Homo sapiens: one gene and its partner. The protein of the gene in region 1 interacts with the protein of each later gene in a pairwise test. Each region holds a gene or a part of one and is shown on either strand. Other genes may lie near its edges. The genes, in order: ASAH1 and NR5A1.

Region 1 (15,598 bases):
CTCCAAGAAATAACAATAAAATAAAAATATAAATATAAATATACAAAATTAGTCAGGAGTGGTGGTGCATGTCTGTAATCTCAGCTACTCGGGAGGCTGAGGCAGGAGAATTGTTTGAACCTGGGAGGTGGAGGGTGCAGGTGCAGTGAGCCGAGATTGCACCACTGCGCTCCAGTCTGGGTGAGAGAACAAGACTCTGTCTCCAAAAACAAACAAACAAAGCAGTCAAGAGCAAAGATCATGGCAACATTTCTTTTTGATGCTCAAGGCATTTCGCTTGTTGATTTTCTGGAGGGCCAAAAAATGACAACATCTCCTTATTATTAGAGTATTTTGAGAAAGCCAAAGCCTTATCAGAAAAATGCCCAGGAGATTCACCAGAGAGTCCTTCTTCACCATGACAATGCTCCTGCCCATTCCTCTCATCAAACAAGGGCAATTTTGCAAGAGCTTCCACAGGAAATCTTTCTGACTTCTTTTTGTTTCCTAATCTTAAAAAATCTGTAAAGGGCACCCATTTTTCTTCAGTTAATAAAGACTGCATTGACATGGTTAAATTCCCAGGACCCTCTTTTTTTTAAGGATGGACTAAATGGCTGGTATCATCCCTGACAAAAGTGTCTTGACCTTGATGGTGCTTATGACAGGAGGCTGAGGCAGGAGAATGGCGTGAACCTGGGAGGGGGAGCTTGCAGTGAGCCGAGATTGCACCACTGCACTCCAGCCTGGGCGACAGAGGGAGACTCCATCTCACAAAAAAAAAAAAAAAAAGAAATAAAGTTTATACTTTTTATCCTTTAACTCCATCTTTGAACCTGGGAGGTGGAGGGTGCAGGTGAACGTTTTGAAGTCCCCTTGTATATATATTAGTGTTATATTCTTTTTCGGTTGCAAACTCCCTGAGATCTGGAATTTGTATTTCACTGCATGTGTATCTTCCATAGCACCTAGTAATCTGCTCTTCATTTAATGGTCATTTAGTACTTTCTATACACACATTATTACTATAATTGTTATTGTTGGCTTCTGTTGTCATTTCAGGGTGACTGTCATACTCCTCACCTTTCTGAGCTGGGAAACAGTTGAGAAATATACACAGGCGTTAGAAATATACACATATTAGATTCTGCTTTCTTGCTCATTAAGCTGAAATAGAGAAAACAATTTTGACCTGAGGCCAAAATGGAACTTCAACACCTTCTACTTTGGAATGAGCTTGTGTACTCAGTCTTTAGGCAAATGCAAATGACTTTTCAGGGGCACAGCCAATTTCTAACAGGAGGGGAGTGAGCTGAGGGCAGGGTGAGGATGGAGGCGCAGGGACCGGATGTGCAGGAGGTGCTTATAGGCGCTATTCCTTGACTGCCTTCTCTCTACATCTCTCAGAGCTCTCATTTTAGAGTGCTTTCTTCCAAATCTTCACAGCCATTACGTTATAACGTCATGATTTTAAAGTCTGTTGGTGACGTGCCACTTTGGGAAGATGTGGTCAAAGGCAGCAACTACTTTCACGTCCACTGTTGTCATTCAAGGCTTGCTGCAGTAGAATTACCAGTGTGGGCAGGCATATCTACTACTGTGGGGAGGCAGATCTGAATGAAAGCGCCAGAAGAGAGGCCAGGCCACGCACGTTCTGTGACCTTTTCAACTATTTACTGATTAGATACATCATACATCTCTCCTTCCCTAGGGAGACATGAATGGAGGAGACGGCAGAGAAAGGTGGACATTTTCTTCCAACAACATCTGATGCTAGATCCAGGTTTGGTGACACCTGAATCTTATGCAATTTAAGTGGTCCTCCTTAAGGAAAAGAATACAAAATTACAAGCATAAAATTTAGTAAAAGGTTGGGAAGGGGCATGAGCAAGTGAAGGTACTAAAACTTAAAGTTCATAGATTTGTTGTACATCCTTCTCAACAAAGGAGAAATGTCTATTTTCATGTGTGTATCAGTTAGGATGCTCTCAGATACAATAATTTAACTTGTAAGCAAACCAACTTGTCCAAGATTCAATAACAGAGTAGTGGCTGATGTAAATCAAGAGTCCAGTTGTTGGACAGGATCTGTGGTTGGTTGATCTAGCATCTTGACAATGTCATCAATGACCCAGTTTCTTTCCATCTTTCTACTGTGTAGTCCACAGTATCAATTTCATCTTAGGTGGCTCCCTTCAGGTTTATAGCATGCATGCCAGCAGCAATGGGGATTCCTAGCTTCCTCTTTCATATTAGAAGGGAGAAGACAAGGCCAAGCATGGTGGCTCACGCCTGTAACCCCAGCACTTTGGGAGGCTGAGGCGGGTGGATCACCTGAGGTCAGGAGTTCGAGACCAGCCTGGCTGACATGGTGAAACCTCGTCTCTACTAAAAATACAAAAAATTAGCTGGGCATGGTGGTGGGCGCCTGTAATCCCAGCTACTTGGGAGGCTGAGGCAGGAAAATTGCTTGAATCCGGGAGGCAGAGGTTGCAGTGAGCCAAGATCGGGCCACCTCACTCCAACTTGGGTGACAGAGCTAGACTCCATCTCAAAAAAAAAAAAAAAAGAATAGCATTACTGATTCCCAAATAGATGATGCTGAAGTTGTTTATACAATTGACATTCAGAAATATATTCCATGCTATCAGTTTTTTAGTTTTTATAATTCTTCAGGTGAAGTAAATAAGCAGGCACTGAGGAAAATATTATCAAATTCACAAAAAATGTGGTAGGTTGTTACAAATTCCATCGTCATTCAGATCAGATCATGACATTTAGAGAGAGGCTGCTTCACAAAAACTTGCAGGAGCATTTTTCAAACCAAGACCTGGTTTTTCTGCTATGAACACCAAGTATAATAACAGAAAGCCGCTCTACTCATCGACTGGAACATGCCTTATATAAACCTCGAAAAGGACTTTTTCACAGGGTACCTTCAGTGGTTGCCAATCTGGGCATGTCTGAACAACTAGGTTATAAAACTGTATCAGGTTCCTGTATGTCCACTGGTTTTAGCCGAGCAGTACAAACACACAGCTCTAAATTTTTTGAAGAAGATGGATCCTTAAAGGAGGTACATAAGATAAATGAAATGTATGCTTCATTGTAAGAGAAATTAAAGAGTATATGCAAAAAAGTGGAAGACAGTGAACAAGCAGTAGATAAACTAGTAAAGGATGTAAACAGATTAAAACGAGAAATTGAAAAAAGGAGATGAGCCCAGATTCCAGCAGAACGAGAGAAGAGCATCCAAAAAAGACCCTCAGGAGAACATTTTTCTTTGTCAAACATTATGGACCTTTTTTCCAGATTCTGAATTCTTCATGCATGTGTTATGTCTTTAAAAAAACAGACATGTTTCTAAAGGTAGCTCTAACAACCACCACCATCTCGATGTAGTAGACAATCTGACCTTAATGGTAGAAAACACTGACATTCCTGAAGCTAGTCCAGCTAGTACACCACAAATGGTTAAGCATAAAACCTTAGACTTAGCTGACAGATGGCAGTTCAAGAGATGACGGCGGACGGATCACGAGGTCAGGAGATCGAGACCATCCTGGCTAACACAGTGAAACCCCATCTCTAATACAAAAAAATTGGCTGGGCGCGGTGGCTCACGACTATAATCCCAGCACTTTGGGAGGCCAAGGTGGGCGGATCAGGAGGTCAGGAGACAGAGACCATCCTGGCTAACATGGTGAAACCCTGTCTCTATTAAAATACAAAAAATTAGCCCGGCGTGGTGGCAGGTGCCTGTAGTCCCAGCTGCTTGGGAGGCTGAGGCAGGAGAATGGTGTGAACCCAGAAGGCGGAGCTTGCAGTGAGCTGAGATCCTGCCACTGCACTCCAGCCTGGGCTACAGAGGAATACTTCGACTCAGGAGAAAAAAAAAAAAAAAAAAGAGTGTTCACGGCTGTTAGACACACAAGACAAACCATCTAAAACAGATACTGATAGTAGTAACCAATAAAAAAGCATCCAAAATGAGCAGCCCAGAAACAGATGAAGAGATTGAAAAGATGAAGGTTTTGGTGAATATTCACGGTCACCTACATTTTGATCCTTTTAACCTTAAAAGGAGATTTTTTTAATTTGGCTGATGGGTAAAGTCAAACATTTCCATTGTTTTTACTAGGTTGAGCTACTTGCAGTAATACAGGTAAGTTCATTTGTTTTTACTATATTCACCTCTTTGCAGTAATCCACAGATAAGTCTTAGTGCATTTATTTTACAAAGTACTTTTTCAAACATCAGATCCTTTTATTTCCAAACCTTTTTTCGCCTTTCAATAAGTTGTTGAGGGAAAGGCTTACACACATTCTTTAGAATTGGAAAAGTGAGGCCAGGCACAGTGGCTCACAGCTGTAATCCCAGCACTTAGGGAAGACAAGGCAGGAATGATTGAGGCCAGGAGTTAGAGACCAGCCTGGGCAACACAGTGAGACCCATCTCTATTAAAAAAAAAAAAAAAGTATTAGAAAAGCTAGAATAGCCTTATTTTCACAATGTGGAAAGAAATTTATATGAAATTTATCTGAGTCATTAAAATTATCCTTAGGTGATAATTTTTTAGAAGTACATTACAGCTAGTGTTGCCAGATAAAATGCTGGATCTCACGCAGTACCTTTGCAAAACATGATCTAAAATTTAAATTTGTCCTACATTTGTACTTGCTAAATCTGGCAGCCTTAATTATTACACAACTATAACGCAACACAAACAATAATCTCTCCCCTAGTTTAGAGTCCTTTGCACGAAATTTAGCAAATCCTTAATTTTGAGTACAGTACAAGCCTGGTAATCCAGTGTGTTTGGGATAGGCTGGTGGAACTCAGAACTGATACATATATACATACATGTCTATCACATTCACTGTCTATTAGGTGTAAATCATCTTTTTATGTAAAAGACACTACTGGTTTGAGGATAGAGTTGTCTAGGAATGTTTTGTCCTGCTGTGACAGCATCACTATGCATCCCAGTGTAACATTCCTACAAAGGGAAGATCTCTTAACCAGGCATACTTACATTTGCTAGTTAGAAAACCATTCTGAGCAGTTTTAACTCCATTCAGTTGAATGGTGTACTACATTGTATGAGCTATTTGTGGACCAGATATAAATGACTATCACCCAGAACCACTTTCATTCAACATATGTAAAATGTGATGAGTGTTAACATTTTAAATAAGCGATCTGCTTAATGAACACTGATTGGTATGAAGGGGAAGTGTCATTCTTTACCTCACTCCTGAAACACTTTTCTATCCAAAGGTTGGTTTGAGTCAGTATTGGCGTCATACAACCACTTACTATAAAATAAGTTTACTGGTGGTAATGTGATGGAATTTATTCCGGATATCTGATGTTATAAACTTTAGGGTCCCTGAAATATGCAGGATCCTTGTATGTAACTGGCATAAACCCTGTAAAGAGATAATTAAAGTTCTTGACAAAGCATAATGAGCAAAATTTCAGCTAGCTCAATACAGTTGTTGAGGTGCTCTTTCTTACCCATTGTTTGAGCTCTCTTAATTGCTTTTGTGATTTGTTTCTTCCCACAAAGACCTGTAAAATAAAAAGCTTCCTTATTCATAAAAAAGTCAATATTTAAAGTTAAAAAAATGTTTATTTCTCAAACTGAAACATTATTTCTCTATCTCTTGACCTTTTAGTACACGTTTTTGTATATTCGGTTTTACTAAATCAAGTCAAACCTGTTCCAGGTAATGTGATGTTATACATGATAGGTTTCATTTAGGGTGGGGTGGCTAAGTTGCAACCCTTTTAAATCAAGGCTCCACCTCAGGAACCTAGGAATGTTAGGTAGGAGATGAGGAAGTCCACAGCTTGCCAAGAACTTCAGCTATTCCATAAACAATCTGATTACATATCCCGACTCTTGCACACGAAACAGGTTATCCAAGTCTTAAACTTGATGCTTTTGTGCAGTATGAACCACCCTTTCCGTGGACATAATCATGCATTTGCACATTTAAATACCATTTTCTATGAACAGATCAGTATGCCAAAAACCACTGCAAAGTCTCCTACACACACCTTGCCTTGACTTTCTGTACATTTCTAGTATTAAAGAATGGTGTAGGCAAAATAAAGATATATGTGTAAGAAAAAAAAGACATGCATGAAATGGTTTAATTTTAGGGAACTAGATTTATATTTTATCTGAAAAGAGTATTAATAATATATAATAGACCTTTGAAAGTTAGACGCATAGTTCTGCGAAAGTGGTGCCTAAGAATAGTATGTCAATTGACAAATTTTTTCCATAAAGAATCTGATTTTGCTAGACTACCTAATCACCAATTAACATCCTCCAGTAGGGAAAAAAATATGCTTGGTGACATGTTTAAATCGCTCTCAAGAGTACTGAAGATGAATGATCTTCCAATCAAGTAGCTATTTGATTTAGTAATAACAACTAAAAGATGGGAATCCTCTTCTTCGCACACTCATTTTAAGCTCCAAGGTAATTCCATAGATTCAACATTTAACACGTATATTCAATATTACACATTTTTTTTCCGGAGTGAAATGGCTCTGAATGCCTTACAGAATTTGCCCTGCTCTCCTTAACTAAATACTTTGTCTATTAATACTTCTTTCTTCTTTTCCCCTTGTTCTTTCTGTGCCAGACCCACACACGTCTGCTGTAATTGAACATGCCAGGCACATTCTCCATTTAAAGCCTTTTAACAGCTGCTGTCTCTGCCTAGAATACTCTTACTTGGGCACACACAAAACTAGCTTCCTGGTCTCCCTCAACTGTCTGCTCAAACTTCACCTCCTTAATCATGTCTATCTGTCCCTCTTATTTAAAATTGTAACTCTACCACTTCTGATCTCCACACTTGATGCCCCTGGCCTCCCTTTTCCTCCACTGCATTTGTCACTAACATCCCGTATAATTTTCTTAGGTATTATGTTTATTGCCCATTTCTCACCGAGAACATACGCCTCAGGGTGGAAGAAGTTTGTCTTTTTGTTGTTGTTCACTGCTTATCCCCAGTGTCAGGAGACATGCTTGGCACATTGTAGGTCCGCAGTAAATATTTTTTGAATTAATAAAGAATATTTCTACCATCTGCTAGCTTACTGTTCATGCAGGAGCTCAAATGTGCTTTAAGCATGTGATATGTTTCAAAAGTCAAACTTCATCCTTAGGGAGAACACTGTCATCTTCTCCTCCTTTAAAAAAAAAAAATAGGAAAAAAAGCAAAACAAAACATCACCTTCTCATTTCCCCACCTCCAACAAAAAGAGTGTTGAGTTTTCTAAAGAAATAATACAAATGGATAAAACTGCAATTTGTTGTCCTTTCTCTCACATGCAAAAAGAAAAGAAAAAATACTGCCGAGATTTCGGCAGCGTGCTGAGCTTCATCAAAGCATTAAAACAATGCTGCTTGAGACGTCAGAGGCTCATCCAGGAAGTGCAACCCAGAGGGCAGGATTTCCTGCTGGACTTTGAAATCCAACCCGGTCACCTACCCGCGCGACTGTGTCCACGGATGGCACGAAAGCCAAGCGAGTCCCCCTGCCGAGCTACTCGCGTCCGCCTCCTCCCAAGCTGAGCTCTGCTCCGCCCACCTGAGTCCTTCGCCAGTTAGGAGGAAACACAGCCGCTTAATGAACTGCTGCATCGGGCTGGGAGAGAAAGCTCGCGGGTCCCACCGGGCCTCCTACCCAAGTCTCAGCGCGCTTTTCACCGAGGCCTCAATTCTGGGATTTGGCAGCTTTGCTGTGAAAGCCCAAGTGGGTAACCAACAGCTTGGAGGACCCGAGTGGATTCGATTCTCTCTCACTCCTCGGCCACTCAACTGCTCCTTGTCCCTGACTCCGCGGTGGGGATGAATAACTCAACTCATTTCGGGCCGCTTTTCTCAGAGGGCAAAGATGGGTCAGGGTGGGATGTTACATTAGTGTTGAGACTCTTTGGATCCGTTTCGTGGGTACCGAGGACGCCTGGGTACGCGGGACAGGCTGCACCCGCCTGCTAGAGGCGCCCCATCGAGGCGCCACGGGTGAAGCTCCCGGCCCCACCTACGGGGCGGGGCTCCGGCTCGGTCCGACTATTGCCCGCGGTGGGGGAGGGGGATGGATCACGCCACGCGCCAAAGGCGATCGCGACTCTCCTTCTGCAGGTAGCCTGGAAGGCTCTCTCTCTTTCTCTACGCCACCCTTTTCGTGGCACTGAAAAGCCCCGTCCTCTCCTCCCAGTCCCGCCTCCTCCGAGCGTTCCCCCTACTGCCTGGAATGGTGCGGTCCCAGGTCGCGGGTCACGCGGCGGAGGGGGCGTGGCCTGCCCCCGGCCCAGCCGGCTCTTCTTTGCCTCTGCTGGAGTCCGGGGAGTGGCGTTGGCTGCTAGAGCGATGCCGGGCCGGAGTTGCGTCGCCTTAGTCCTCCTGGCTGCCGCCGTCAGCTGTGCCGTCGCGCAGCACGCGCCGCCGGTGAGTGAGCTTGAGCCGAGGCGCAGAGAGGGGCGTGCAGGTGCGGGCGCGGATGGAGGCGCAGGTGTGGCGGCGCGAGCGGGTACAAGGAACACCTCGTGCTGGGCAGCTTCTTTACGGGGGTCTGTGGTTTCGTGCACAGGGGTGTGGGTGCAGAGCGGGCTGGCGAACCCCGTCCTCGGTAGATTCGGTGCTACCTGCAACTAGAACTCCTTTAAAGGAAATCCTAGTCTCTGCAGGATACCTGGGTGTGATTCGCACATTCTTAGATTTGAGTGAGTGTACTTGAATAACCAGTTCCAGGCCCTTGCATTTTGAAGTGTTTAAATAAAATGTTCCGGTGGACCTGTGTGCATTACTCAATCAAGGACAGACTGCCTGATGGTCAGGTGCTTTCTCCCGAAGAAGTTCAGGAGTTCAGCCCAGGATACTGCAGGGCCGTGGGAAACGCTGAGTGGTCCCAAGCTTGGGCGGTGCGAGCAGCCCAGAGCAGGCCCCAAAGGGCCCCCTGTGGCCTTTTGCACCCAAGTCATGGGATCGCCTGTCCCGTGGCTCTTTCCCACGAGCAAGTCACAGGGCTACGGACTTCCTAACTGCAAGAGACAGTGAGGGACGAGCGTGACTCTTTCATTTTACAGAAGAGGAAGTAGACCTAGAGTGAGAAAATATTTAGCCAGAGGTTACACTGTTGTTTACTGAACATGCGTAACGTCCGAGCCTCTTGACGCCCAGTACTCTTTCATAATTCATTTCTTTATAAAGCAATCAGACTGCGTTTGTCTTTGCCAACAGAATCGGATAAGTAGGAACCTGGCGCATCTGGCCTGAGGCTAGATGGTGATGGTCTTGAATAGTTTAGGTAGGTTATTGAAAGTGGAAGCAAGATGTGCATTGTCTTCTTTTATACCTGTAAGGAGAAATTCTTTAAAATCATGGTGGGATATGATTTAGCCATTAAAATTGATATAATGTTCAGCAGATAAAAGTAGAATCCAGAATAGTATATACAGTTTTTCCTGTAATAGGAAAATACACAGAACATGTATGTGGACACGATTAAAGGCCTTAAAATAAAATTGCTCCATTGTGGGTAGGGAATTAATTTGCTTGACGGTAGTTGGTTTTATGGGAATTGGGAGAGACTTTGATACTTTGATACTGTCAGGGCCCTTCATTGAAAGACCACCAGGAACACACCATAAGCTGAACAAATTGGGTTTAGTGTTCTTTGAGGCAAAGGAGACCACACACCATGAGCGACGGACGGTAGGTTATAGAAAAAAACCCATTACAGAATTTGAACTTCGGTTGCATGATTTGGGGTAAGACTGAGGAACCGGGCTTTGCTGTAGATAGAATGCTGTTAGAAGGTGGGGCAATTCTGACTGAGTAAAGAAGGAACAGCCATTCTGTTTAGCACGAGAAGGGGATGTTTGGTGTTTTGTGCGTTGCAGGTGCCCTTGTTTTTGTCTGTTCTTAGAGAAAATCTTCAAGTGGCATTGCTTTGTCTTGGTGTGTCATGTCTCAGAATAATCTTATCCGACGTAGGTATCTGTGGGATTGTTGATGTCCAGGAGGAAAACAGAGCTTACCTGGCTGTGAGTGTCAGATCGGCTTGTAATAATATTGAGAGATAGCTGTGGGACTCAGAGCAGTTTCAGGTGTTGGAGGCTGTTTTTTCTTCTTTCTCAATAGCTTTATTTATTCTAGCAAAAGTATTTTGATAGCTATTTTCAGAAGAAGAATTAACAACCTCTCAATGGATATAATAGTTCTTATCTAGAACAGCGATTATCAAAGTCTAGTCTGGCCACTGGTGTCACTTTGGGAAGCTGTTTTCACAGGTTTTCAATGAAACTGGAAAAATAAGAATGCAAAACTAAAATTATTAATTTAGAATGTTAATCTTTACTCTGATTGTATGGACTTCAAGTTTTCATTGTTGCAAACGTGTTCTTAAAAATAACGGCAGAGGTAGATGTTATGTGCATGGAATTTGTTTTGTTTTAACATCTCCATTTGGCAGAATAAAAATTTGGACCCTCCTGTGCCAAGGCCTCATTAATTTTTTTTTACTGGCCTGGAAAATCCTGGGATCCATGCACTGAAGGACCTTTAGAACCTTACAGAAGTTTAGTGACTTCATTCTCTGAGAAGAATAAGCAGTTTTTCAACTGGAGTCATTATATGATAAACTATAGCCTCATGGTAACAAAAGATATTTCAAAAGTACTTTCAATAAATATGAATAATGAGAAGCAGCTTTAAATTGGAAACAAGTCATTTGATTTAGAACATCTGTAAGGATTTTTTGTGTGTTTGTTTTTGAGGCTTTTCACAATATTCCTATGTGAAGGTCCTCCTGAGTTATTCTTCATTATTGAATTTTTTAGGAGTCTATTAAGAGATGATGGTGAAGACAGTGGCACAAGAAATGTCTGGAGAGATAGCGCCAGATGACATCATCCAGGGTTCTGTAGACTCTTATTAAGGATTCAGAAATTTATCCTAAAAAATGGGAGGATCTGGAACCAGCCAATGGGAGGCCATTAGATGGTTTTAGACAAGATAACATTTTCACTTTAAAAAGATGAGTCTGGATTGGAGGTCAGCAAGGGTAGATATGAGGAGACTAGTCCAGAAAAGAAAACAGGGTGCGTTGAAGGATGGTGGCGCCAGGGGTGAGGGAGAGAAGTAGATGTTCTAGAAAAAAATCAGGAGGGCGAATGAGCTGAAGGAATCGTTGGGTGAGGATGAGGGAGTGAGGTGTCAGCGTGACCTGCACATTGCTGAAGTGCTTCGCTGGGCGAATGGTGGCATCCGTTCCAGGAAACATGGGGAGGGGAAAGCTTGGGGGCTAAAGAATGAGGATCGTTTTCATTTGGGGTGTATGTTAAATTTCAGGTGGCAGAGAGGCATCCAGCAGGCCACTCGGACTGGCACTCAGAAGAGAGACACTGAGAGTCACTGGCATAATGATATTATATTTGAAGCCCTTGGAGCAGATGAACTTACCTAGAAATAGGATAGAGAAAGAGAAGAAAAGAGAACTAGGCAAAGGCTAAGTAACTTGCACATGTATGTGTCAAGAAGAGGAGAAATTGCCAAAGTTAAAACAGGACAGGCCGGGCGCGGTGGCTCATGCCTGTAATCCCAGCACTTTGGGAGGCCAAGGTGGGCAGATCACGTGAGGTCAGGAGTTTGAGACTAGCCTGGCCAACATGGAGAAACCCTGTCTCTACTAAAAATACAAAAATTAGCTGGGCATAGTGGCTCACGCCTGTAGTCCCAGCTACTCAGGAGGCTGAGGCGGGAGAATTGCTTGAACCTGGGAGGGAGAGGTTGCAGTGAGCCAAGATCCTGCCATTGCACTCCAGCCTGGACAATGAGCGAAACTTCGTCACAGAAAACAAAAACAAAAAAATAGGAGAGTAAGTGGAACAGGAAGCTCAGGGAAGAGACTGGGACAGGTTAACTATGTTGAATATTATTGAGATGTCAGTGGTATTATGATGTTGGGCAACTGGAGGTCATTGGTCACCTCGACTGGAGCAGTGTTGGGGGCAGAAAACAGCTTGCGGTAGGCTAAGTGTGATTGGCAGGAAAGGAACTAGAGGGGAGAGATGGCTGCTCTGCGTAATAAATCTGACCCACTTCATAAGATGTGCGAAGATGAAACGTAATGGCTTAGTAATTAATTGCCAAAGTAAACTTGTAAACTCATTTTTATGCATCAGCTTCTCATACTAGTTAACAGCGTATGTCAACATTGTTGACATTAGCTATTGAATCAGCTTTAGCAATGATTTTCACGCAGTTGCCAGAAATCTCATAGACCCCATCTGGCCTAGGAATTTATTGCACTTCATCTGCTTTTCCCTACTTCTCCCAAAGAGGGAACACACAGGTGTAATCCATTCACTTATTCAACAAATACTGCTTGCCTACTATGTGCCAGACTCCTAAACGCTGGGAATGCGTCAGCCAATGAGATAGATGAGGTCCTTCCTCTCATGGAGGGTTTATTCACATTCCTTTGACCTAAATATCAGTAGCTTAATAGGATGCCATCCCATCAAAGCCCAGAAGACAAGTGAAAACATTTTCAAGCTCATGTGAATTCTTGTACACGTAGGAAACATGCCTCTTTGTATTCAGTGTTTCTGCTGAGTTGTACATAAGAGGACATTATAGGAAAAACTTGTCTGCAAAATAGTTGTTGATGAATTCAAGAATTGAATGAATGAAAAATTGTCTGGCTAGAGTTGTTTGGCTTCTGGTGGGTATGAAAACTGACATGAGGTATGTAATTTTAGATTATCCTTCATTGTCTCTTTCTGAGTATTTCAATAAGACAAGCACACAAGGGCTTTCTGGACTTTTAAAATTCACTATTAGAAGCATACATTATTTCATTGAGGGTCTCCTAATTCTTTCGGGCTCAAATATTTTAAGGAGCTGTACAAGTTATGCCATTTTTTAAGGGTATGGCGCTTTCATTGAGACCTTAATGTTCTCTTTATATTTTTGTGTTTTTTTTAGAATGTTGTGTTCAGTAGCTCTGTAATTAATTTCTCTTAATGAATGGGGAGGACATTCAAAGAGGCTTAAGTTTCTATCAAATAACCAGAAAAATTAGAGAATTTTCTGACCCAAACAGTCTTTTAAAAGCACTTTCCAGAGAGTTTTTTGTTTTTTTTTTTTTTCTGAGATGGAGTCTTGCTCTGTCTCCCAGGCTGGAGTGCAGTCACACTATCTCGTCTCACTGCAACTTCCACCTCCCGGCTTCAGGCAATTCTCCTACCTCAGCCTTCCGAGTACCTAGGATTACAGGCACATGCCACCCAGCTAATTTTTGCATTGTTAGTAGTAACGGGGATTTCGCCATGTTGGCCAGGCTGGTCTTGAAGTCCTGACCTCAGGTGATCCACCCACCTCAGCCTCCCAAGGTGCTGGAATTACAGGCATGAGCCACCATGCCTGGCCCAGAGAGTTTCAAATGCATTGAAATATCAGATTTTTACCACTTATCTTCACTCTTAGGAGACCACTGAGGGGCAGGGAGAAAGGTAGGGAAGGGCAGGGAGAGAGAGAGAAAGAGAGGTACTGTGGGGAGAGGGTTAGAGAGAATTGATTCTAAGTTGGATTTTGTTTCCTGTGATAGGGTGTACATAGTATACCATCCAGACCACATAATCTCTCTTCTTATCATCTGTTTCTAATCTTTACCTATCATCTATTTAAGTTTTTACCTGCCTTAATAGAGTTGTCTGTTATTAAACTGTTTATAAACTTGGGGATAGTAAGGAACTTTAAATAACATTAAGTAAGTTCATTATAATTCTGTTTTAGGGCTACTCGTGGGTTTTGAAGCTGTGTCTCCCTGTAGAATTCTTTTTTGAGGGGGAGGAAGTAGCTCTTTTTTCCACCCTACCCCTAAAACTAACCTTTTTGCATAAACGACTTAGGCGTTCATGCCATGTGAGCCCCTGAAATACTGTAGTCTCATAGCTGCCAACTTTCTTATTTTCTGTCACACTTATCCTATTTCCTTGCAGCCAGGTTCTATGCCAATTTCACGTTTGTTTATTGCTACCAAGAGTCGTTATCAACCTCAGACTCACTCCACATGTATTGTTGCTAGCTTGCTCTTTAGTTCTTACCTCTGGGGCAGGTCACATTCTCTCCTAATACTAGACAGAGCATTTTCAACTTTGCTCACAGTTGTCTAGTAAGAAATGTGCCTGTAATTTGATGTTTATTTTGGCTTTGGAACCCAGGGCGTGCAAATGTCATTATTAGGAAGGGATAGGAGTCATTACGTTTCACTTAATTTGCCGAGTTGATTCTAGTGATCACCAGAAGCCCTGAACTACGCGCAGATTATTCTGTTAGGAATTAAATTGAGGCATTGGTTTTATTATCTCTGTGGGAAGCTGTTTGATAGAACAGGGAAAGCCATTGACTCTGATTCTGTCACCAGCTGTGTAACTTTCTACAAGTCACTAATGGAGCAGGGTCTTAAGTCCACAACATGATCATAAAATTAAGCACTTGGGTTAAGTACCCATCACAGTATTCCCAACTCATAGGAAAACAATGGTCAGATAAACAAGAAAATGTAAAGCGGAGTATCTCCTCACAGCAGAACTTATTTACAAATTTTACAAAGTAAAATTAAGTTGCAACCCCTATAAGTCTCTAAGTAGCTCATTTATTAGCAAAATAAGGAAAGCCATTTACCAATGGTGGATTACCTAAATTGTATTCGATTGTAGTAGCAGAAGTATTGTGTCCAGGGAAAATGAAATTATTTTACATGTCATTGAGAACCCTTGTCCTGGACTTTGGGAAGAACATCAATATCAATTAAAGAACAAAGCATGTGATTTTTGAGTGATTTTTCTTGACTGTCAACATACCGATAACTGATCAGTTGTTGATATTTATTAGATGATCATTGCCAAGTTTGAAGTGACTGAAGAGTTAGCCTCTGAATCATCTGTATAAAACAACTACAGGCGAGGATGTTTTCGAAGAAGCTGAGAAAATAATGATTGAGTATAACCTGGAATGGAATCTGCTAAGATCTATAAAAATTGACAGTAGTAAAAATATTTGTGAGTAGAAAAAGGCGGAGTTGAGCAAATTCACAAAACTTGTGAACATGCGAGGTGTTTAAAGCTCATGGTTATTTATTATAGTATTCCTTTTCAGATATTTTGTGGAAAATATTGGAATCTCACATGTGTTATTGAACCGGCAATATAAACCATGAGCTTCATTTGCTCTTGTGGATATAACCGTCATCATTTCTGTGAATTATCAGAAATAGAGGCCGGATATCCTGATGTCTCTTGTGACAGAGCCATTAGATAGCTTGCTAGCTGTAAAGTTTTGCAGTCTTTGAGTTCACAGTTGAGACTGAAGTTTTTCTAAACGAGCTGCCCCCAGCCACTATTACTGAACACGAATGGCTTTGGAAATTAGCTTTTGCTACAGACTTGATATTGTTTCTTAATGAATTCAACGCAAAATTACCAGACAAAGCCAGACATATGTGAGAAACTTACAGTGTGGTAAGGCAAATTTGACAGCTAATGTTTGAATCACAGGTAATGTCAACCTACTTTATATATTCC
Region 2 (15,093 bases), on another chromosome or scaffold:
CGGCCCGGGTGTTCTGGGAACCCGACAGAGACGAAGGAGGCAGAGACAGAGTCCGGGGGAGCCAGAGATGGGAAGAAACTCTGGCGAGAGACAACGACCGACGCCACCGGGCGCAGACACGAGGCCAGTCCGAGAGTGCCAGAGACACAGACACTGAGACGCCCAGCTAGAGAGAACCCGGCGGGGACGAGACACAGGGAGGGATGGAGAGAGACAGGGAGACAGAGAGAGAGAGAGAGAGAGAGAGAGACGAGAGAGAGAGAGAGAGAGAGAAACGAGGGGTGGGGGATTGGATCAGAGACTCGGAGAGACAGCGGAGGCCCGAAGAGAAAACCCAAGAGAGACTGACGCAGAGCCAGAGACACAACGATAGACGACAGACAGAGACGCCGAGACGAGAGGAGCCCCGGAGAGACGAGGCCGGGGAGCTACAGAAACACGGAGAGAAAACCTGGAGGCGGAAGCGCCCAGCCCGAGGGTCGGGGACAGGGGACGCGCGGAAACCTGCCGGGCAGGAGCCCAAGCGCCAAGGCGAGGCCCCGCAGGGTCGGACCCAGACGGGGGCCCGGGCCGCAGGAGGCGGAAAACGACGGCGCCGGGACCGAGAGCCCGAAAACGCAGAGCCGCCGGGACCCCCTCCCCGGGGGAGACAAAGCCGCAGCAGCGACGGCAACGGGAGGCGCAGCCCGAGCCGCCGCTGCCACCGGGACGTCGGGCGGGGAGACCTCGGGCGGGGGTCGGCGGGCTCCGGGAAGCCGAGCCCGAGGCGAGGGAGCGACCTCGGGCGGAGAGGCGAAGTCCGGAGGAGGGAAGCGCGAAGAGCCAGGGCCCGGGACGCGAGAGGGGGCGCGACGGCGGCTGCGGTCGGCCCGGCGCCCACCTGGTCGCTCCTGCGAGCAGCGCCCCGCGTCCCGCCCGCGCGGAGCCCGCACCTCTCGGCCGCGCCGCCGCCGCCGGCGAGGAGCCGCACCCGGGCGCAGCGCCGCCCGCCCGCGATGACGGCCGCTCGGGCCGGGGACGGGGAGGCGGGGGCGCGGGGCTGGCGGCGCGGGGGCCTCGGCTCCCCCCTCCCGCCTCCCCGCCCCCCATCCTGCCTCCCTGTTCCCCCCCGCACCGCCGCCGGGGCCGCTCCGAGGCGCACCTGGGACCCGGGCCCCTCAGCCGCCACCCCGCCCTGCGCCAACCCGCCGCGCCGGGGCCGGGGGCCGGCCCCTCTATATCGGCGCGTGCGGTATCCGGGGGCGGAGGCCCGGTCGTGTCCTCCCCCCAAGCCCGGCCCGCGCCGGCACCCTCTCCGCAGTCCAGCTCGAGTCTTCGCCCTCATCCTCCAGGCCCCCCAGCCGCAGCCCGGCTCCCCGGACCCCGAGCGCGGCCAGAGAGCTGCGGAGCCCGAGTGCCCCGCGATCTGGGCAGGTATAGGGCAGTGGGGGCCTTGGGTCACCCGCCTGCAGTGGGAGGAGGCAGCTCCTGTCTGTGAACCCAGCTGGGTCGTGGCGAATGCCACGCGGGTGGCTGGTCGCACTACAGCGTGGAAGTGGGTAAGGGCGAGTGGCGACCGTGGCCGAGGCTCGGATTCACGGGTGGAAGCCAGATTCTCCCATGGGGCCCACCACATCTCCTCACTCGAGCCTGTAGCAGCTCTCTCCCCGTCTCGGGTCTTCAGTTGCCGCATCTGTGAAGTGGGTAGATGACCGCTCTTCCTCGCTAAGGGTGGGTCGTGAGGATGAACCCAAGCAGTAGGGGCAAAGCACGCGTGTGGCCTGGCGGAAGCGCTCAGTGGCGCCCCTCTGGGGAGATCTGGGGCGAACCCCTTCTGCTCGCTAGCCTCAGGTCGCTGGGCTGGAAATGGGACTCGTGGAAATCCCATTTTACAAATGTCCGAGGCCTGGGGGGACCCGAAGCCTCTACGGGCGCAGGAGCTGGGAGAGGAGCCCGGAGGCAGGGCCCCGCTGCTCCCCTCGGAGCTCTCACGGGGGGGTGGGGCGAGGAAGAAAGCGCTGGGCGGTCTTGGGGACAAAGGGGTTCCCGGGCCTATGGGCCAAGCAGTTGCTCTGGGCTAGGGACCATCCGCGGGGCCACTGTTTTTCAGCTGGAGAAACGGACCCGAAAGGAAGGGGCCTGCTTGCATCCTGCCTCCGCCCCCGCTGGCACCTGGGGTCAGAGAGAGTTTGGGGACCATGAGGCCAAAAAGCTGCGATCTTCAAGCAGGAAAATACCGCAATTTTGCATTGACAGCGGCGCAACCCACCAAAAGGCTCCATCTGGGCTCCCGCCCGCCTGGAGGCCTCGGGCTTCGGTTGGAGCTGGGCCTGGGGCCTGCAAGTTGTGGCCAGAGAACCCCCCGCGCAGACCGCACTCAGCTGGCTCACCCACAGAAGGAGCAGAACCCGCAGACTAGCTGTGCAAGCTCGGGCAAGTCACTTCTCCTCTCTGAAACGAGAGCCTCAGTTTTCTCCGAGCATAAAGTGGAACATGTTGGCTTTACAGATGGGGTACTGCGGTTTCCATGCAAGAATCTTGGATGAGGAGGGAAGAAAGAGCCAGAGACCCTGTTAATCGTACCCCCCGCACCCCCAAACCCCTGAGAAACAAGAGCATCTGCCCGAGCTGGAGGTGGGGGTCACTGCCGCCTCTGAACAGCTCCCCACCACAATGGAGCCCTCAGACAGTGACTGCAGGAGGGAAGGGGGTTGGTGGATGATGGGCTGGGGTGCCCCAGTTGGCTGTTCTAAGGTAGAGCTCACCCGAGGTCTCCTGGAAACCTGGAGCTGGACACACAGGCCCCAGCCGCCGGGGTTGGGTGGGGGCTGGGCTCAGGCCCTTCTCCCTCTATCTCCAATCCCCTCTCCCCAAGGGTTTCTACTCTCACCGGCTGGAAGCCCATGGCTCCTCTGCACTCCAGGCTCCGAGGCACCCACCCCCACAGGTTCCAGGTTCCAGCCCACCGCCTGGGGAGTTCCAGCCCCTCATCCACCCACCCAGGGAGGGAAGCCTAGACCTGGCCCGGCCGCAGAACCCAGGCTGACAGATGGATGCCGGAGACAGACACACGGATACACAGCAAGACTCAGAGAGAGCCACAGAGACAACACAGAAACTCAGGTGGGGGACAGAGCCCCAAGACAGGCCCAGAGCCCTCCAGACACACTCACAGACCTCTAGGCTCAGACCCACACAGCCTGGTGGATGCCTGGCCAGAGACAGCGGGACACCAGCGGACCTCCATGGGGCTTGTGGTCACAGGCCTGGCTCCTCCCATCGGCAGCCCAGGGAAGAAGAGGGGGTAGCATGGTGGGAGGGTGAGTCTGGGAGACCCCTGGCACCTTCCCTGCCCAGAGCAGGGGGCACCGGTCACTAAGTGGAGCAGGCAGTGGCCGGCCCAGGCTGCAGGGAGGCACTGCAGAAGGAGGCTGGCCATTAGAGGCCTGGGCCAAGGCCCTCACTTACGAAGCGGAAGCAGCGCTCTCACACCGGATGAGGGTGGCAGTGGGCACCAGGGGTCCAGGGGGAGGCTCCGGCAGCCCAGGTGGGACGGTGGCGACTGTGGGTGCGCAGAAACCCCCTCACACCACGGCGGGCGGCAGCCGGACAGCAGGCTGGCCCTGTCCGTCCGTCCTCCTCCTCCTCCCCGCCCTGGTGGGGGGGCCACCGGAGGCCCAATTGGTCTCTGCCCCCACGTGACTCTGCAGGCCTCTCGCCTTCTTTGTTGGTGTTTCTCTTCATTTACGTCTATTTTTTCTTCTTCTCCTAAAAGAAAAAAAATACCCCTATCTATCTGGGGGCTGAGGGTGGGGGCGGAGGCCAAGGCACTGCAGAGGCCTTGGCCAGCTGGCTGTTCCAGGCCCGCTGTGGGAGCCCAGAGGCAGGGACCCCACAGAGGCGGGTAGGCAGCCCCGCTTGTTAGAAACCGGGTGGGAGTGGGGCTTGATTTATGGGCTGCTCCCCCACCCGGCCTGCCGCCTGCTCCTCTCTCCTTGTGAATGGCTACCTCCCTGGGGCCTGGCCTGGCATGGTCTGGCCCAGCCCGGACATTGGAGTAGAGTCAGGACAGGCCAGTGCGGAGGCAAGGCCATGGCGACTTGACTAGGCGGCCTGCTGCTTCCACCTCTTTTTCCTCTTCCATCAGGTGGAAGAAGAGGGGGGCCGGAAGGGGAGCAGGTGAGCGGCCTGGACACCTGGTGCGTGCATGCCACGGTGGCCTCTGAATGTCCTCATCTGCTGTGGGCTGCTGATGTTCCCAGTCGATGGCTGGAAAAACTGAGGCTGGGCTGAGACTGCCTCTGAGGCCAAGTGGTGGCTATAGTGGCCCCAGGTTGAACCAAGTATGAAGCTAGTCCAGGATAGGACAGGGTAGCAGGAAGGGGCCCTTATCTAGAAGGCTAGGCCTCCCTAGACAACCTGGGACGTCCCCATCCAATCTCTGGGCCCAGATGGGCTCTGAAATATCCTGTTCCTGTAGGGCCCGGGTTGCAGGGTGTTGTGCCGCTCCCACGGTGACTGGATCTTTTGTGTGTTCCTCTGTTTGTCTCACATTTACTGAGCGCACACTTAGGGGTCAGGCACTGTTCCAGGCACCAGGGATCCCATAGGAAAGAGAAGAAAAGTCTCTGTCCTCAGAGGATTTACCTCCGTGCCTTTCATCTTGGGAGAGCAGGGAGGGGCACAGGGTGACTATGGGGCAGTCACTGTTGAGAACCACCCCTCCTCCCACATATCCCTTCATTGGAGGAAATAAATAAATCACACCCAACACCTCACTTATCTGGAACAAGAGGGACTTTTCTGGATAAGTGAAGTGAAGCCAACTCTCCCTATATATATTTTTTCATGGAAGGCCACTGAAAAAGTAGAAACGCCAACTATATTTAAAACCTATGTGTTTTCCAGCCAGTCACTGTGGCTCATGCCTGTAATCCCAGCACTTTGGGAGGCCAAGGTGGGCGGATCACCTGAGGTCAAGAAGTTCAAGACAAGCCTGGCCAACATGGCAAAACGCCATCTCTACTAAAAAATAGAAAAATTCACCTGGTGTGGTGGCTTGTGCCTGTAGTCCCAGCTACTTGGGAAGCTGAGGCAGGAGGATCGCTTGAACCTGGGAGGCAGAGGTTGCAGTGAGCCAAGATTGTGCTACTGCAGTCCAGCCTGGGCGACAGAGTGAGACTCCGTCTCAAATAAAATAAAATAAAATAAAATAAAATAAAATAAAATAAAATAAAACCTAGTGTGTGTTTTCCTCATTATGCCACTTAAAATTGTGTGTGAACATACAACAATAATACTGATAGACTGTAGTCCCGGCTACTCGGGAGGCTGAGGCAGGAGGATGGTTTGAACCCAGGAGTTGGAGCTGCAGTGAGCTATGATTGTGCCACTGCACTCTAGCCCGGGCAATAGGGTTTTAATAATTAATAATCATTAATTCAATAATAATAATTTTTATAATATAATTTCACCAACAGTCATAGCTAACTGATCGAATATATTCCACCTACAACGTAACAGACAACTTATTCCTCAATGTGCATGACCTTGTAATTATGTCTTTTTCACCTAGAGAAGTTCTTACAAGATATACTTCTCTTGCATATGGCTGAACCTAACTAGTCTCCCTATTTTAATATTCTTTTTTTAGTGTCCCTATTTTGTTTTATGTCTTTTGAGACAGGGTCTTGCTCTGTTACTCAGACTGGAGTGCAGTGGTACCATCATAGCTCACTGTAGCCTCGACCTCCTGGGCTCAAGCAATCCTCCTCCCTCAGTCTCCTGAATAGCTGAGACTACAGGCACATGCCACCACACCTGGCTAAGTTTTGTATTTTCTTTTGTAGAGATGGGGTTTCGCCATGCTGCCCAGGCTAGTCTTGAACTCCTGGGCTCAAGAAATCGGCCGCCTCGGCCTCCCAAAGTGCTGAGATTACAGGCGTAAGCCACAGCACCTGGCCTTAGTGTCCCTATTTTTTTTTTTTTTTTTTTTTTTTGAGATGGAGTCTCACTTTGTTGCCCAGGCTGGAGTGCAGTGGCACAATTTCAGCTCACTGCAACCTCCGCCTCCTGGGTTCAAGCAATTCTCCTGTCTCAGCCTCCCAAGTAGCTGGGATTACAGGCACCCGCCACCGCACCCGGCTAATTTTTGTATTTTTAGTAGAGACAGGGTTTCATCATTTTGGCCGCACTGGTCTCAAACTCCTGACCTCAGGTGATCCACCCACCTCAGCCTCCCCAAGTGCTGGGATTACAGGTGTGAGCCACCGCACCTAGCCTAGTGTCCCTATTTTAATGCAATGATTTTGTTTCTGGACTAATATCACTCACCCTCTGAATTTAATAAGAAATATCCCAGCAAGTCCAGGCGCAGTGGCTCACGCCTGTAATTCCAGCACTTTGGGAGGCCGAGGCGGGCGGATCAGGAGGTCAGGAGATCGAGGCCATCCTGGCTAACACGGTGAGACCCCGTCTCTACTAAAAATACAAAAATCAGCTGGGCCTGGTGGCGGGCGCCTGTAGTCCCAGCTACTCCAGAGGCTGAGGCAGGAGAATGGCGTGAACCCAGGAGGCGGAGCTTGCAGTGAGCCAAGATTGCACCACTGCACTCCAGGCTGGCAACAGAGCAAGACTCTGTCTCAAAAAAAAAAAAAAAAAAAAAAAAAAAAAAAATATATATATATATATATATATATATATATATATATATACACACACACACACACACACACATATCCCAGCAAATACCCACCACTAACATGTCACATACATGTAACAATAACAAAATCATGAATCTTTGCACCTCATTTAATAGGCGACCTTATGAAGTGGGGTCTGCTTTGTCCGCCTTCTTAAACAAGACAAACAGGTCTCTCTCCACACCATGACGCCATAGAAGGAACCAGCCTGGCTTTGTCCTAGTCTCCTGGTGAGTCCTTGAGCCCTGAGAAGGAGAATTGCTGGCAGAGTCTCTGGATTAAATCCCAGTTCTACCACTTTCTAGCTGTGTGACCTGGGACCAGTCACTTCCCCTCTCTGGGCCTTCTCTCTTCTCTATAAAATGGGGATGAAAGGAGACAATACGTGTAATGTATTCAGTGGCTGGCTGGTATGTCATGTGTGCTCAATAAGTGTCAGCAAAACACAAACAAACAACCAGCTGAAGGACTGGATGATCTGTCCTCAGAGGCCCTTTCCCTGTTGAGTATGAGATTGCAACATCATCATGGACACCGTTTGCCCTTCTGTGATGAGCGCCTCACCTCAGCCTGGGGAAGCCTCCAGGAAAGGCCTGATTTATCTCTGGGTCCACAGCAGCCTGCGTGGAGCAAGCGTTGGAACTTGCTGAATGACCACTTTCCTCCGCACTTGTAGGTAGAGCTCTGCTGCCTGCTCCATGGGTCCTGTCTCCTCTGACGGCATCAGTTGTCACTCAAGGCTGGGTGCTCCTCATCCCCTAACCAACCCTGGCCACAGTCACTGGTACCCCCTTCCTCTGTGCTGCCCCCTCCCACCCTCAGCCAAAGTGGGTGCTCTATGGGGACAGGGGCAGCCAGGGGTTACCAGCGTGCTGGGAATGGCAAGGCCCCAACTCAGAAGTGCCCCCCTATGTGCCAGGTCCCCAGCTAACCACTCCACACCTGCAGTCAGTCTCGAACCTCTCCGGCATTCTGGGAGGTAGGTAGTAATTCCCTCTCAACCCCCGATAGCAGCAGTTAAGAGAGGAGGAAAGTCAGGCTTAGAGAGACCAGGCATCTTCCCAAAGTCACCAGGCGAGGGTGTGATGGGACCAGCGTTCAAATCCCAGCAGTGGAGTCCAGAGCCCAGGCCTGCAGGCTGACTCCTCTCCACCCTGCCAGAGCCCCTGGGTGGCCTGTCCTTTCCTTCAAGCTCTAGCCCTGGTGGTCCCAGGCCACTAGACCTACCCAGAGGGGAAAGCAAAGGAGGGCTGTAGTCCTGACTCAGGCGCCCCCAACCTCCCTCCCCAGGCAAACAAAGCCCAGGGTCTCTCTCCTAACTGGGGACTTTCCCAAAGTGCCAGGCCCATTTCCTGGAGGTGGGATAAGGAACAAACAAACCAGAGGCCCAGAAACTGAAACAGAGAGAGGGACAGAATCATCAGGCTGCAGAGTGGAAAGGTGGCCAGAAAAAGAGAGAGAAGCTGCAGAGGCTTGGGCAGAAAATATGAACACAGAGAGAAAGGGGAGACGCAGTCGGAGGGAGGGAGGATGACAGAGAAATTCAGAGTGGTGAGGGTTGGGGAGAGAAGAAATGAGAGCGAGAAGAAATGAGGAAGAGAGAGAGAGTAGGGATGAGAGAGATTCAGACGGAGAGAGAGAGACTGAGGCAGAGAACGAGAAGCGGGAAGGGCCGAGGCCTGGAGAGCTGGAGGTGGAGGGAGGGTGGATGTGGAGACCCCGTGCAGGGCAGCGGAGGGGGCGGGCCTGCTGGCGGCAGCAGAGGCTGTTTCCGCTGCACCCCTTATCAGCCTGCTGCCAGATGTTCAGATCCGATGCCAATGTCAGAGAAGTCCATAGTGCTGGGTCAAGGCCGTGGCCAGCGGGAGCCTCAGCTGCAGTGTGGGGAGGGGGGCTAGGGGCCTGCAATAGACCTGCTCGCTCTTCCCCCTCTGCCTGGTGGCTCTCTGGGCTGGACCACCTCGTGGGGATGGGAAAGGCCAGGTGCCCCTGGGGCCAGTTCTCTAGACTGAGAGCAGGGACTTGTGGAGGCAGATTGGGGCTCCTGGCAACACGTGGACACATACATCTTTGCACATTCGAGAAAGCACATGGACACACACTCAGGCACATGAGTGCACAGTGCCACATGGGGACAGCTCACAGAGTGAAGAGCTGCGCCCCCACAGCTCTCCTCAGCACCCCACAGCCTGCTAGAGCCCCTGCTCTGCGTGTTCAGCTTAGGGCCCCTACCCCCCCGACCTCTCTCCTGACCCAGGACTGCAGCCCGCACTGGAGAAGCAAGATAGGAGCCTCTTTGTGGCTGGTACTATTCCTAGGGCCCACACTGCTCTTCTGTGAACTGGATGCACCCAGAACCTGCTGCCCCAAGGGCTGGGCAGAGGACCTGGGACCCTTAGAACATGAGGCCTGGGGGAGCCCCCGTAGGAGGTGCAGAAGGTGGCATCTGGCAGAGCTGGGCTCCAGCCTTGGGTCTGGCCTCTCCACCAGGCTCCTGGAGCGTGCAGTGCAGCTGGGGCCCCCAGCCTGGGGTAGCTTATCTCTCGGTGCACACGCTTGGCCCTCAAGGGGTGACCCAGCCTTGCTCCCCACATTCCACTTCAGCCACGCAGCCGGTGGGCGCCCCCACAGCCCCGAGACAGGGCCTGTGCTTGGAGGGTGGTCAGAAGCCATCATGCTGCACCACCCCCTGCTCTCGGCTCCAGCCCTGCACAGCCATCTCTGGTGTCTCTTCGCTTGTCTCTGCTTTCATCTCTGTCACGATGAATCTGTCACTGTCGGTATCTTAATCATGTTCTAATTTGTTTCTCTCTGCTATTTTCAGCCGCCTAGTCTGTTTTTCTTTTCTCTCTCTGGGGTCCTTGAATGGGGCCACATCTAAGGATACTGACACTTTTCTTTCTAGCTCACAGTGGCCAGCTGAGTGGGAATGTCTATGAGAACTCGGGCTTGGGTGAGGGACAAAGGGCTTCAGAAAGCAGAGACCTTGGAACTGTAGTGGGTGAGCTGGGGCAGCCCAGGGAGCCCAAATTCAGGCCCCCTCCCACCCACTGCTAGGAGTCAGCCTGGATGATGGACACTGATAGGGCCTGGTGCTGGAGGGCTCCCCCATGTAGTGGAGAAGCCTGGGGGTGGCAGCAATGGGGAGGAAGCTGGGGCTGGAGGTCTCCCAGCCTGAGAGCCTCCTTCCTGTTTGTAGGGAAGTCACTGCCTCACAAACCTGCTAGCGGGAGAAAAGGGAGGCCATGGGGACTTCCGGGAAGCTGGCCAAGGGCCCCAGGCTACCCTCCCTGTGCCCACAAGGGGCCCTCTGGCCCTGGCTTAAAATAGTACAGTTCCTCCTGTAATGGTGCTGGGCCCAGCCCAGACCTCAGAGGGCTGCTGGCTGGCTGCTCGTGCTGCTGGCAGAGGCCCGGGTACCCAGCCCTCCTCAGATTGTGGCTGGAGGCTTTGTCTTGGTAACATGGGTGGGAATGGGGAGTTGCAGAAAAAGCATGGGTTCCTGAGTCAGAAGCCCTGGATTCAGGTCTCAGCTCCAACACCGACTAGCCGTGAGACTTTGGGCTGGTCCATGTTGCCTCCCTGAGCCTCAGTTTCCACTTACGGAAAACAGGGTGAGCACGTGGCTTTTAACCTGAACGAGACCACGTATGTAGCTGATGCCTATGGACCTTGCCACACATAAAGTGGACACTCAAAAAATGGGAGTTCCTTTTGCCTCCAACTCACCTGAGGAAGTGCCTCCTGGAAGCACTCCTCAGTACCTACACTGCTCCTAGGACTGGGTGTTGAACAAGGGTTTGTGGAGAGGCAGCATGCAGGGAGGGCAAGGATGGGGCTGTGGTCTCCATGGTGAGACTTGTTGCCAAGGGAACAAGACTCCAAGAGCCCCGGGTCTGGCAGTTGGGCACTTTTGCCATAGGATCTGAGAGACTGATTACCACTGTGGACCTAAAACCCTGATGGGCAGCCAGGCCAAGGCTCCTGGCTCTGCTAAGTTTCTGCTCTTGGGGTGTAGGGGCGACAGCTCCCCGTACCTAGCCTCCTTTCATGTATTGACTTCACTGAGACCCAACTTTAAGCCAGCCACACTCAATCTTCCTTAACACTGCCCCCTGTCCCCCAGGACACAGGTACCAGCACCTCCATTTGTCTGACAGGGAAAGTGAGGATCAGAGAAGCATCTGTCTGGGTCAAGGTCACATACAACCAGGAAGGGCAAGAGCTGGAATGAGAACTCAGGTGGTGAGATCTCTGGTTGACGTGCCTGCTGTCTCATAGACTGCTTGAAGGAAACGACCCCTGGAAAGAGCTCTGTGTAGTCAGACTCAACCTCATCCCAGCACTTTCCCCTGCCATCATTTCCAGGGGCTTCTGTCTTCAGACTCTGACTTAATTCGGAGTAGCCAGCCTTCCCTGTTTCTTCAGGTATGCAGATGGTCTTACGTACCTCTGAGGGTTTGCACAAGGATAAGAATCACAGCACAGATCCTGCCGAATAGTAGGTGCTCAATCGATGCTGGTTTATATTCATTCCTGACATCTTGCCAGTTATGTAACCTCAAGCAAATGACTTACCCTTTCTGGGCCTCTGTTTTCTTATCTGTAATATGGGATCATTATAGCATTAACCTCACCGGGTTGCTCTGGGGAATCAGTAGTACTCTAATGCACACAAAATACTCAGCACAGAGCTTTGCTTTGTTTTCTAGATGTTACTTTATTATTCCTCCATATTATTGGCTGGCACCCAGGAAACTGAAAGCTCAGTGTCACATAAGCAGCAATTTATGTATTTAGAGCAGTGTCCTTTTATTCCATGGAATATTATCCCAACAGAATTTTAACAGGAGGCAAAAATGTCCAATGCTCAAATGCTTTTGGTAGAACCTGGGTTAAACAACATTAGTTTTCTTCAGGTGGGACTTCTCGAGACTTTAATATGCCAGTAAGGGCTGAGAATCAATGAGGATGATAGAGCGAGTGCAGCACTTCCCATATTTTTGGCAACAGAATTCAGGCTTCTTCCATGGAACCATCTCTGGGGGTGGGGTGGGGTGGGGGGGAGGTTCCTGAGCTCTGGGAAGCCATACCAATGTAGCGCCTGCAGTATTCCACATGACTGGGCAGCACCGCTTTTCAGCTCACTTTGGTTGGGTCTGTTCATCCACCTCTTACAGAATTAATCCTTTATTAATGTTTTTTATTTTTTTGTTTCTATGGCAAAAGGTTCACCCAAAGGCCATTACTGAGCTTTGCTACAAACTCTGGATATCCACATTCAGCACTACTGAATTGCTAAGGCTGAGCAGGGAGGAAGCCAGTTGTAACTTTAGTATCAGATAGACCTGGATTCAAAAGCCAATTCTGCCACTGACTAATGTGTCATCTGAAGCAAAAGGCTTAACTTCCTTGAGCCTCAATTTGCTTATTAGAAAAATGGGGCTGAGACCTACCCCTTGCAAGGCTGTTATGAAGATTACTGAGACGACATGCGTGAAGCACCAATTACGGCGCCTGGACTCACGAGGCGGTGGGCCAATGCGTCCCTTCTCCTCCCGGCACCTCTGTGTATCTGTTCCCTCTTGTGGGGGCAAGGAAGACAGTCTATTAATTCGTTCTGCAGCATTTGCTTTGTTCTAAACCCATCTCTTTCAAAACTCAAGGGCTCTCTGGTTTCTTGTGCTGGAGGCTGAGGAATGGGAAGGCAGCTGGGCTTCCCTCATTTCACACAAGAGGATTAATAGACTTTGATCAAACCCTCCTCAGCCTTTATCTTCCCAGCCTGAGAAGCCTTCATCTCTCCCATCTGTCTTCATACACCCCTCAACCCAAACTCTGCCACTTCTCTGATCATATGAGCAGGCCTACAGGACAGTTGGGCAGATCTGAGTTCAAGTACAAACTTAACACTCCTGTGTGATTTGGGCCACATCCCTTGATCTCTTAGAGCCTCCATTTTTTCAGCTCTAGAAAAGCTATTAATAGACCTCACCTATTTTCTGGAAAGACAGTATTACTTTGCTAGAGCACAGTGCATCCTAGGCCATCCATTGGCCTCTCATGCACTATGATGCTGCTCTCTTGCCCAAGACTCAGCAAACAGCTTTCTTTCCCCACACTCTTGAATGTGGCATCCAAGGCTCCCAACTGCTTCTCCAGCCTCAACTCTTGCTAATCCCTCCCACCTGCCATCATTCTTGCCATGACAGTCCCTTGTTTTACCTGAACACTCCCATCTTTCTGATACACAGCCAGGCCTTTGGACATGGATCCCTCTACCTGGCCTACCTGTGGATCCCTTTGCCTCGTGACTTTCTTCAAGGGCCACCTTCAACAACACTCATCTGTGAAGCTCTTCCTGACTATCCTCCATAGAACAAGCCACTCCTTCTCCAGGCCCTTACAACCCCACATACATCCCTAATGACAACCTCATCCCCCCTGCACTGCAAAAGTCTGTATCTGCCTCTCCACTAGGCTCACTTCTCTGGTTGTGCCACTCACCTTGGGAGAGTCTTTTCACCTCACTCAACTGTAGTTTCTTCACTTATAAAACAGAATAATCCTTGAAGTTCAATATGGTGCCTGGCACACAAGTTGGGCACTTCAGTCAGTGCTGGTTCATTGATTCAGGCAGTTCCGAGACACCACCTTCTGCCAGAGCCTCAGCAACAGAATTGAGGTGGGTGTCAGCTATGAGCAAGAGACACAGGTCTGAAGGCACAAGCCGGCGCCTCAGGACACGCCATCATCCCTCCCCAGAACCCCAGACAAGCTTCACAGACAGATGCCATGTGCAGAAGGATTCACATTTATTGGTTCAAATACAGTACCTAACACTTGCTAAACATGCATTTCACACTAATTGGTCACATTTCCACAGGTAGTCAATTCACAGAACAGGGCCCATCCCTTGCCAGCTGGCAGGGTGGGAGGTAGCAGAGGGCCTGGGTAGCCTGCAGAGCCCGCCAGCTATCATTTGGTCATGGAGGGTTGATGGAGTCAGGCTGGCGGGCAGCCCTTGGCCGGCCCTTTGGAGACAAGGGCTCAGGGACATCCCGTTTCCTCGATTCCTACACACAGGACTGTGGGTGGAGGTGGACCTAGGGCAGGTAACCTGGGGGTAGGCTCGTGGATGTGTGTGCCACTAGAGCCCTTAAAGGTGGTGTCTGTGGGAGTGGTGCTCCCTATGCCCTGGAGCACAGGAAGGAAATGGAGGCCTCTTCAGGGGGGTGACTAGTCCCTGGCTGGGTAGGTGGGAAGGAATCCCCAGACACAGCCCAGACATCACAATGCAGCCACCAGCCCCTATGGCAGACCTGGGATGGCAACACAGACAAAAACACCAACACCCCAGGGCAGGCGGGGCTTCTTTCCCGACAGAAACATGTAAACAGAGCAGGAGCTACAGTATTCTTTTCCCACAGGATTCCTCAGAGAGGAATCGACCAGGATGTCGCTTAAGAGGTAGTTTTTTTTTTCTTTTTCATGGAAATTTGAATCAACAACATTATCACCTATTACAAGACATTTTAGAGAAAGAAAACAATGGTCATTAAAGGGCAAAGACGGCAGGGCTAGATCTGGGGGACTAGCCTCCACCCATAACACAACTTTTGTTCTTGGGCTTGGAGCAGGCTCTGACCTTACTCACCGCCTCCCTTTGAGCCTACAGTTGATTCCTGTGCAGGCTGTGGTCCATTTAGGGCTTCAGGCCCAGAAGACGGATGCTAGATGGGAACTGGGCTAGACAGAGGGACCAGGCTTCTATGAGCGGGGAGAGGCAGGGCCACCGTGGCTCGTGTCGTAGGACAGCTAGAAGCCTTCAAGTCTCATGGTGGCCCAGGTCTGGCCAAAGCAGAAGCCCCAGCTTGCTCCAGACTTGGCAGGCTCTCTGGAGTTCCCGCCTTGGAGGAAACAGTTCAGGTATGGCTCCCAAGCCCAGAAAAAATGTTGCTGTGGCAGCCTAGAGAGGAGTTTCTGGGGATCCTGTAATTAAATACACATCCCTGAGCTGTGGCCCCAGAAACCCTTGTCTCCAGGCTAACCAGTTTCCAACACTTGGTGGAATGACTGCCGTTTCTCATCCTGACACACAGATAAAACATCATTTCACAGATACTGGACATAGATGCTTCAAGCCAAGGAGAAAGGGAGGATGATCAGTTGCAAAGGCAGAGGGGAGTGCAAGGGAACTCTCATGGGCTGGGGTAGGGGGAGGCAGGGGAGTAAGAGTAGCGGATTTTTTTGTTAAATTTTGTTTGTTTTTTGGGTTTTTTTTTTTTTTACTTTAAAAAAATCAATTAAAAATTCAAAGCTTAATAAAAGGGCTGGTCTGAAAGACTGGATTCTTAAAATAATTGCAAAAATTTCAAAAGCAACAAGGAAAAAAGATACACACCAGGGGCCC

What was found.
Region 2: the proteins of ASAH1 (region 1) and NR5A1 interact in binary tests that used the Homo sapiens proteins (3 or more experiments, as listed by UniProt).

The regions. Positions count from the first base shown.
Region 1 is NC_000008.11:18,076,839-18,092,436, reverse strand, and holds the start of ASAH1 (acid ceramidase isoform a preproprotein), read left to right. Parts: upstream 1-8,329; 5' UTR 8,330-8,378; coding exon 8,379-8,456; exon of another isoform or gene 8,457-8,520; intron 8,521-9,240; exon of another isoform or gene 9,241-9,315; intron 9,316-15,598. UniProt on the Homo sapiens protein: Lysosomal ceramidase that hydrolyzes sphingolipid ceramides into sphingosine and free fatty acids at acidic pH.
Region 2 is NC_000009.12:124,503,802-124,518,894, forward strand, and holds the start of NR5A1 (steroidogenic factor 1), read right to left. Parts: upstream 3,599-15,093; 5' UTR 3,448-3,598; intron 1-3,447. UniProt on the Homo sapiens protein: Transcriptional activator. Essential for sexual differentiation and formation of the primary steroidogenic tissues. Binds to the Ad4 site found in the promoter region of steroidogenic P450 genes such as CYP11A, CYP11B and CYP21B.